Regions from separate parts of the Homo sapiens genome. Here region 2 is linked to region 1. The links come from fine-mapping of genetic effects on gene expression. A gene starts in region 1. The other region holds a variant in brackets. All regions are shown on one strand. Distances are from middle to middle. Region 1 holds the start of ATP6V1G1 (ATPase H+ transporting V1 subunit G1). Region 2 holds the start of LOC105376229 (a long non-coding RNA gene).

Evidence for each region. PIP is the estimated chance that this variant, and not a neighbour inherited with it, causes the effect. A credible set is the group of variants that fine-mapping cannot tell apart.
Region 2: its variant is the best candidate, but not a certain one, in a credible set for the expression of ATP6V1G1 in whole blood (INTERVAL, PIP 0.70).

Annotation. Positions count from the first base shown.
Region 1 is chr9:114,585,217-114,589,608 of GRCh38, forward strand. It overlaps ATP6V1G1 (ATPase H+ transporting V1 subunit G1), which reads left to right and starts at 2,553. Exons shown (of 3, transcript NM_004888.4): 1 at 2,553-2,704. The coding sequence starts at 2,623. RefSeq lists enhancers at 1,012-1,831, 1,832-2,650, 2,289-2,368, 2,479-2,988.
Region 2 is chr9:114,563,673-114,568,064 of GRCh38, forward strand. It overlaps LOC105376229 (a long non-coding RNA gene), which reads right to left and starts at 2,771. Exons shown (of 3, transcript XR_930260.2): 1 at 2,695-2,771; 2 at 696-818. It overlaps LOC124902352 (small nucleolar RNA U13), which reads right to left and starts at 1,680; the gene lies at 1,578-1,680. The variant A/G (reference allele first, on the strand shown) is at 2,204.

The sequences.
Region 1 (4,392 bases):
ACCACGCCCAGCCTTTATTTCTTTATTAAAATGTACTTTAACTGGCTGGTCGGGGTGGCTCACACCTGTAATCCCAGCACTTTGGAAGGCCGAAGCTGGTGGATCACGAGGTCAGGAGTTTAAGACCAGCTTGGCCAAGATGGGGAAACCCCATCTCTACTAAAACTACAAAAAAAATTAGCCAGGCACAGTGGTAGGCACCTGTAATCCCAGGTACTCGAGAGGCTGAGGCAGGAGAATCGCTTGAACCCGGGAGGCGGAGGTTGCAGTGAGCCGAAATCGCGCCACTGCACTCCAGCCTGGGCTACAGAATATCTAAAGAAAAAAAAAAAAAGAAAAAAGAAAAAGAAATAAGGTACATTTGCAGAAGTATAATCACTAACTCTGTCAGATGTTATCTTATGTGTAAAAGAGGCAAGGATTAGTGTAATTTATCCTTTAAGGAATATAGTAACTCAGGCAGGAGACATGTGGGCCCATGTGCTCTATTCTGTTTTATCTTCAAAACTCTTTCCAGTCCTGTTTCTCACATCAGAAAAGGATAGAAATTCTGTTCTTTCCAACCCCACCACGTCAATCAAATGAAAATGTCCTGAGCCATGAATCCAGCTCCTGGAGTGAAGAATCTTTGTATCAAGAAAAATTCTGGCATTATTTTATGTTCTCAGCACTCAGTGGACTCTAAGAGGTCACCTGGTCCTTTCCTCAGCCCAGAGGATTCCGGCAGAAAAGCAGTAGCTCAGAGGTTTTACTCTGCAGCCCTGACTGGATTCAAATACCCTGTCTGTGTGTTAATAGGGGCATGACTTTTGGCTCAGAGACTTTGCGACTCTCTGAGCTTCAGTTTGGTCAATATAAAATGGAATTAGTAACAGTATCAAAGTTAATGTGAGGAGTGAGTGAAGCGATGACAAGGGCCCGTCATACTGTAAACTCAAACCATGGCTTCCTATTTCCCTATTCACGGTGGATGGGGAGATGTCTCCGTGCCAAGTTGACCCCCTCCCCAACTCCGCACACGCTGGTCCTTTTCCCCTAATCATCTCCCACCGCCTCCATCCCCCACTATCCTTTCCTGGGTAACTTCTTATTCTTCAGATCTTATTTTATTTTTTGAGAATTTTTATTATTTATTTACTTATTTATTTTTGAGATGGAGTCTGCTCTGTCACCCAGGCTGGAGTGTAGTGACACGATCTCGGCTCACTGCAACCTCAGCTCCCAGGTTCAGGCGATTCTCCTACCTCAGCCTCCTGAGTAGCTGGGATTACAGGCGCGCGCCACCATGCCCGGATTTTTGTATTTTTAGTAGAGACCAGGTTTCACCACATTGGTCAGGCTGGTCTCAAATTCCTGATCTCGTGATCCGCCGGCCTCAGCCTCCCAAAGTGCTGGGATTATAGGCGTGAGCCACCGCGATTGGCCTATTTTAATTTTTTAATTTTAATTTTTTTGAGACAGTCTTGCTCTGTCGCCCTGGCTGCAGTGCAGCGTCACGATCTCGGCTCACTGCAGCCTCCGCCTCCCGGGTTCAAGCGATTCTCGTGCCTCAGCCTACTGAGTAGCTGCGATTACAGGCGCGCGCCACCACGCCCGGCTAATTTTTGTATTTTTAGTAAAGACGGGGTTTCACCACGTCGGCCAGGCTGGTCTCGAACTCCTCACCTGAAGTGATCCACCCGCCTCGGCCTCTCAAAGTGCTGGGATTACAGGCTCGTGAGCCACTGCGCCTGGCCTTCAGATCTTAAACACCACTTCCTTGGTACAGCATTCAGAGACACCTCCATATTCCTCTCCCCTTACTAAAGGTTCCTTCTTACGGCACCCTGCATTTTTCCTTCATGACTTTATCACAGTTTGTAATTGTCTATTTATTTTAATTAATCTGTCTGTGTCCATAAACTGTGAGCTCCGCCGGGACCTTGTTTGCCCTGCTCTCTGCTATGTCCTCAATATCAACAGTGGACTAGGATCACAGCAGGCTTTCATCAAATATTTATGGGAAACAGTCCAGTCCATTCCTGAACTCGGGTTCAGAAAAGGATAGCGACCTGTCCAAAATCACACAGGTTAGCGGCAGACTTGATCCCGAGTCTCCTAACTGGCAACCCAAGACTCTATCCCCGGAACTGGCAAGAATCTTCCTGAACTACCCCGATAAAATTTTGAGTGCCAAAGAAAGTCCCAGAAAGGGAGTGAGTAGAGCAGTGTGGAGAGTAGGAGGAAAGTGATTTGACTTGGCCCCTCCTCTCTTGACGTTGAGCATACTGCAAACAGACACTATACGTGGCAGGGCGGCTACAGAGTGAACCAGCGACAGGGTAGCCATTAAAAGAGGCCAGGGAGCGGACAGAGGAGTAGAGGGCAGTACTGCGCAGTAGACTGCACAGGCGCAGTCGAGGAGCTCCGCTCCTTTCTCCTCAGCCCCGCCCCGCCCCATTTCTGCCGAATCACAGAAGTTCAAGAGCGGTCAGCTGATGCTACGCTGTGCGGTCACGTGACAACGGGGGCGAAGCGCAGGCGCAAGGAGCAAGCGCAGATTGTGGGCGGCTGTGTCAGCTGACCCAAGGGGCCTTCGAGGTGCCTTAGGCCGCTTGCCTTGCTCTCAGAATCGCTGCCGCCATGGCTAGTCAGTCTCAGGGGATTCAGCAGCTGCTGCAGGCCGAGAAGCGGGCAGCCGAGAAGGTGTCCGAGGCCCGCAAAAGTGAGTTTCAGGGTGGGGCTGCCCGGCGTGGCGCGAGTCGAAGAAAGACCGCTGGGCCTCAGGTGGTGGGTAGATTAGGCCCGAAAAACTGCGGGGTGCGGGCGTGCGTATAGTCGCGGAAGGTTGTGTGTTTCGAAGCTTTGAGGAGCTGAGGCTCTGGAAGGCTTGCGGATCGCCTGGAAGCCACGATGTGAGATGGTAAATTGGGCGTGGAAACAATAATGGGTTACCGTCCTTGGGGCCTGGAGGCATGTGAAATGGGCTCTCCAAACGGAGCTCTTTGTTCTTCTTCTCTCCCACTTAACCGCTCTGGGGTGGTCAGTCTCGGTGAAGGGAGCCAGCATCCACACAGTTGCTTGGTCTAGAAACCTGGAGTCCTGCTTGCCTCTTCTCCCTCCCTCATTTAGTCAGTCGCCAAGGCTTGCGTATCTTTCACTTTTTCCCCCATGTCTACTACCAGCGTCTTAGTCCAGGACACCAGTTTCTCTAAAGGTACTGTAGTTGTCTAAATCGTTGGCGTGTGTGCGTGTGTGTGTTTCTGATATGTGGCAAGCGCAGTGTGTGTGTGTTTCTAACATGTGGCAAGCGCAGTGTGTGTGTGTGTGTGTGTGTGTGTGTGTTTCTGTCTAATATGTGGCAAGCGCAGTGCCCAGTGCATCAGTTGTCTCCCCTAACGTGGCATTCAGTGTCGCAGTGAAGGAAGCAGGTATTGGGTCAGTTAATTAATTGCAGGAGAGATGAGGGCTGGAGTGGAGAAATGTAAGGTTGCTAAAGAATTTAACAGGTGAGTTTAATCTAGACTGGGGAGTGGAAGAACCCGTTCTGGTCCCCTCCAGTCAATCCATTCTCCTCTCTGCAATCAGTCATCCTTCTAAAATGCAAATATGTGACTTCCTGCTGGTAAGGAACAAAATAAATAAATAAGTGCAGATATGATTTCCCTACCGCCTTTGTAGTCAGACGTTTAGTTCCTGCAGAAGAAAGCTCAAATTCCTTAATGAAGTTGGGGAGGCTCTTGTGGGTCAGGCCTGGTGCTTTCCTCCAGCTATACTGAATCGTTGTGGTCCCTCAGAAGCAGCATGATGTCTTTCACCTGCAGGTTTTTGCACACGCTGTTTCTTCTGACGTGAGAAGCCTTTTCCAATTCTCCTCCCCTTTGTTCTCTGACCCTTAGTCTTCCATCAGACCTCAATTTAGGAAACACTTCTTCCCGGGAAGCCTTTCCTGACTCATGCTTGTCCCCCGGACTAGGCTTGGAGTCCCTCCCAAGTGCTGATTTCTGCCACTGCCGTGCAATAACCTGTTTGTTTATATGGCTCAGTCACTAGACTAAGCTTCTGGAGAACAGAAACTATGTCTCATTTAACTTTATGTATCCAGTTTCCCGTCTGGTGAGAAAGATGCTTCTATCCCTATTTTACAGATAGTAAAAATGAGGCTCAGAGAGAAATGATTTATCCATACCCTGGGAAGCAACATAGTTGGGACTCAGAAGCCTCTTTTTCCATGCAAGGCGAAGATACTGATCTTAGTAATTCCTTGGTGTTTCTCCTAGTATAGGAGTTATTCTATCTGACATCCAACTAGATTTCAAGCATGTCTCCTCTACTTGTGCAGTTAGGGGTTGTGTGGTACTTGGAAAGCTTTCTTTGAGGGTGTTGGGAATGAGAAGAAGCCTTTTGTTCTTG
Region 2 (4,392 bases), 22 kb before region 1:
CTGCTCATTCTGGTTTGTAGTTTAAATGTCTCTGGTTATGGCATTGGGTGGTTTGGTGAACTTTTGATGTGACCCACACATCAGGCGTGAGTCTTGACCCTTGAAATTTACATCAAGTTGTCTAACTTCAGCTTACAGGGCTTCAGGAAAGAGCAGTTCCCATTCTTAGTAATTCCATGGGAGAAAAGTGGATTGGAGGAACCTAGAAGAATTTAAGATCCAGTTCAATCCACAGGTAAATAAAAAAACTCAAACAAACAAACAAAAATACCCCACACAGGGTTACAATCTAATAACAGGTATAGTCTAGCTTTTCTTCAGAAACATAGAAACACGATTTTTCTTTCTACAGTCATTCTGATTTCTACCAAAGATAATCCGAGTAAGACTAATTTGTTGTTATTTGTGTTTTATCAAATTTGGCCTGATAAATTCACACAAGCACAGCAGAAATAGTAATTGACCACATAGGAATCTCAGATTTGACTTTTAAAAATTTCTCAAGGCTAGAAAGCTAATCTACGGCAGACTTCAGACTTTTTCTGCTATACCTATAAATAACTTAAAATATGACATTCCATTTAAAAGCCTGGTAACGTAACCAATGTTTCCAACTATACCTTGTTATTTAAAAAGCAGCTTCTAATTAAACTTATGCAGACAACTTCATTGCCATAAAAATTAAGCATACTCACAAATAGTTTCCAAATTTTGGAGGGACAGAGAAAAAGTAAGTGTTGCCAGTTTTGTTCACAAAAGTATACTTTACCAAATTGTTGTAAACTATAGATATCTTGAGAGAGAAAGTCTCCTTAAATCTGGAAAACAAAACATGTAAGTAAAAAACCAACAATGTTTCAAATATCTGTCTTCATTAGATATTTAATCTCATGTAATTAATTTTTGTTCTGTTTAATCTTAGTTGTCAGTTTCATGAATTTATCAGTTTCTTCATGGGGGTCCTGAATATCTTTATTTAGTCCATTGATCTTAAACTTATCAGAAACCCATATTCAGGAGTACTTGCCAGAGTCTTTTCCATGAATCTGATTGCAGATGCATTTAAAGAAGAATTAAAACTGTGGAAGACAGAGGCTTAAAACAGCCATGGTTAAAAATCTGATGAGAGTTCAGCAATTGACAAGGAAACTCAGTTATGTTTATTGCATACAGCATTTTAAGACAACAACCAGAAAAATGACTAACAGTATCACATTAGGACCATCAAACATTTATAAATTTTACATAATTTTTAGATCTTTCACATCAATAACATAGCCATATAAATATAACTTAGAGAAGACTTAGTGTCACTTTGTTATTTGATCCCATCTGTGCCTCCAACGCTTCTCATACAACTCAATACATCAAACAAGCCTAATTAGTTTAACAGCTCTACAAGCTGAAAAATACATTGTTTGAGGCTCTCCAGGAGCCCAACTAGAAAATCTCAAAGATAATTCTAGGTTGAAAAGACTTCATTTAGAACTCTGATATTGAGAAAGCTGGCCAAATATGTCAAAAAGTATAAAACATTTAATTAAAACAGAATTGCAGATCATAGTGAAATAATAGTTGTTCACTTAACAAGAGTGACTGAAGATTTCAAGGTCTGAGGGTGGCACATCTCACACACGAGTGTGAACACTCAGTCATCATCCTTATGAACTACAAAAGGATCGTGACTGAAGATTTTAAAAGTAAGCTGAGCATGATGGTGTGCACCTGTAGTCCCAGCAACTTGGAAGAATGAGGTGGGAGGATCCCTTAAGTGTAGAAGTCTCAGGCCAGACTGGACAACATAGTGAGACCCTATCTTAAAGAATAAAAATTCCAAAGGCAAATGCAGAAAGTTGCATGTATGTTTTATTAAAAAAAAAAAAAGGCTAAAGACTCAGTTTTCCTAAGTAATCAAAAACCTGGCCGGGTGCAGCAGCTCACGCCTGTAATCCCAGCACTTTGGGAGGCTGAGGTGGGTGGATCACGAGGTCAAGAGATCAAGACCATCCTGGCCGACATGGTGAAACCCCGTCTCTACTAAAAATACAAAAATTAGCCGGGTGTGGTGGCACACACCTGTAGTCCCAGCTACTCGGGAGGCTGATGCAGGAGAATCGTCTGAACCCGGTAGGTGGAGGTTGCAGTGAGCCAAGATCACGCCACCGCACCCCAGCCTGGCAACAGAGCTAGACTCTGTCTCAAA[A/G]ACAACAACAACGACAACAACAAAAAACCAATAAAGACAGCATGAAGCACAGGAAATTACCTTGATAAAACACAGAATCTTTGTTTCCTAGACCAATTACCAAAAAATAAATACTCCTGCAGTGTAATTGCTTCTTATAGGAAGTCCTTTTAGATAATCTGAAAATCTAACCTAATGAAAAGGTACTTGAATTCAAATTGACACTGGATGAGTGTGTGTCCAAGGTTATGAGTATACACTATATTATAGAAGAAGTAAACAAAAAAAATAAGTACCTTGAGCAGGGAAACATATGGCTCTTAGAAAAAGTGAAAGCACATTAAGTTTCCTTGTTACATGGAATAATTCAGACATTTCAAGAAAAGCCAACAGCACAGAATCAAGTTATTCTTGGAGGAAAACATTGCTTTTCTAGACCTTTAAGACAAACATATCAGCATTAGGCCTCAACAGCAGAGTTAGAACCAGAGAAAATAAATGCAGAAGCTTACCAAAATGTCAAGGGAGTGAGTCATTAAGTTGATTAAGAAAAAAAAAAAGTGTGGCCGGGTACGGTGGTTCATGCCTGTAATTCCAGCACTTTGGGAGGCCGAGGCAGGTGGATCACGAGGTCAGGAGTTCGAGACCAGCCTGGCCAACACAGTGAAACCCCGTCTCTGTTAAAAATACAAAAATTAGCCGGGTGTGGTGTCATGCACCTGTAGTCCCAGCTACTCGGGAGGCTGAGGCAGGAGAATCGCTTGAACCCAGGAGGCGGAGGTTGCAGTGAGCCAAGACCATGCCATTACACTTCAGCCTGGGTGACGGAGTGAGAATCCGTCTCAAAAAAAAAAAAAAAAAGTGTGCCTTCTTAAGGGGAGAAGGAGGAAGAGCAGAAGGCAATGGTGTATGACCTGCAAATCATGTGCAATGAGGTGCAGCAGAAGTTGAGCTTCTGAGACATAAATCTGAAAATCTTCAAGAGAAAGACTCTATTTTGAGAAAGTAACTTACTAATTTAAAAGATAGCATTCTAAACCTAGAATTAGGGAAATTAAACAGAAACCATAAAACAGGAAGAGGTTATAGTTCAGAAGATGGTAAAAAATTTAAAGAATCAGATTTCAGGGTTTTTGTTTGTTTGTTTTTTTAGAGATAGGGTCTTATTATGTTGCCCAGGCTGGAGTACAGTGGTACCATCATAGCTCACTGCAGACTCAAACTCCTGAGCTCAACTGATCCTCCCACCTCAGCCTCCTGAGAAGGTTGGGGGGTGGGGGAGGAACTAAAAGTGTGCACCATCATACCTGGCTAATTTTTAATTTTTTTTGGTAGAGATTGGGGTCTCATGATATTGTCTAAGCTGGTCTCAAACTCATGGCCTCAAGCAATCCTCCTGCCTCGGCCTCCCAAAGCACCAGGATTACAGGTGTGAGTCACCACATCCAGCCAGATTTCAGAATTAAAAACCAAAACCTGTGGTAATTTTTTTTTTAACTAAGAGCAATGATACTCCAGGAAACCCTTGCTGCTTTAAACATAGAGAACTAGTTTTGGGTTTTGTATCAGTATATTCAATTTTCAGAAAAATTTATAAACAATTTCCTTCTAAATTTAGCCAACTTGATTACATACAAAATTTATTTCATAAGATTCATGTTTCACAAACCTTTTGCAAGTTGCTCAAACCTCTTATGGCTTGCTTAGGCCTAATTTTGTTTTAGACTTTCTTTTTTAATATTGGAACAAATAATTATTCTACCTTAGGACAAAAATTTGCTTTTCTTTTTCTTTATCATTTTTACCACACAAGATTCTTTCTCATACAAAGTTATGTATCTTTTTCATCTTTCTTACCAAAGATACCTTCTCATATTTATAATTTTCTTTGCATGTCTCTTCCTACTTATTGATTTCTTTGCCTTGTTTTTATTTTCTTCTTAAATCTATATTTTGAAACCACCTTTAAATAATGTCTGAATTAGATATAATTATTATTTTTAAATTAAAAACATATATTCATGTTCTTTTTTAAAACAATTTTTTACTGGCTAGGTGCAGTGGCTCACATCTATAATCCCAACACTTTGGGAGGCTGAGGCAGGAGAACTGCTTGAGCTCAGGAGTTTGAGACTAGCCTGAGTAACATAGCAAGACTCCATCACTACAAAAAAAAAATTTAAACAATATTAAAGTAGCCTTATTCATCA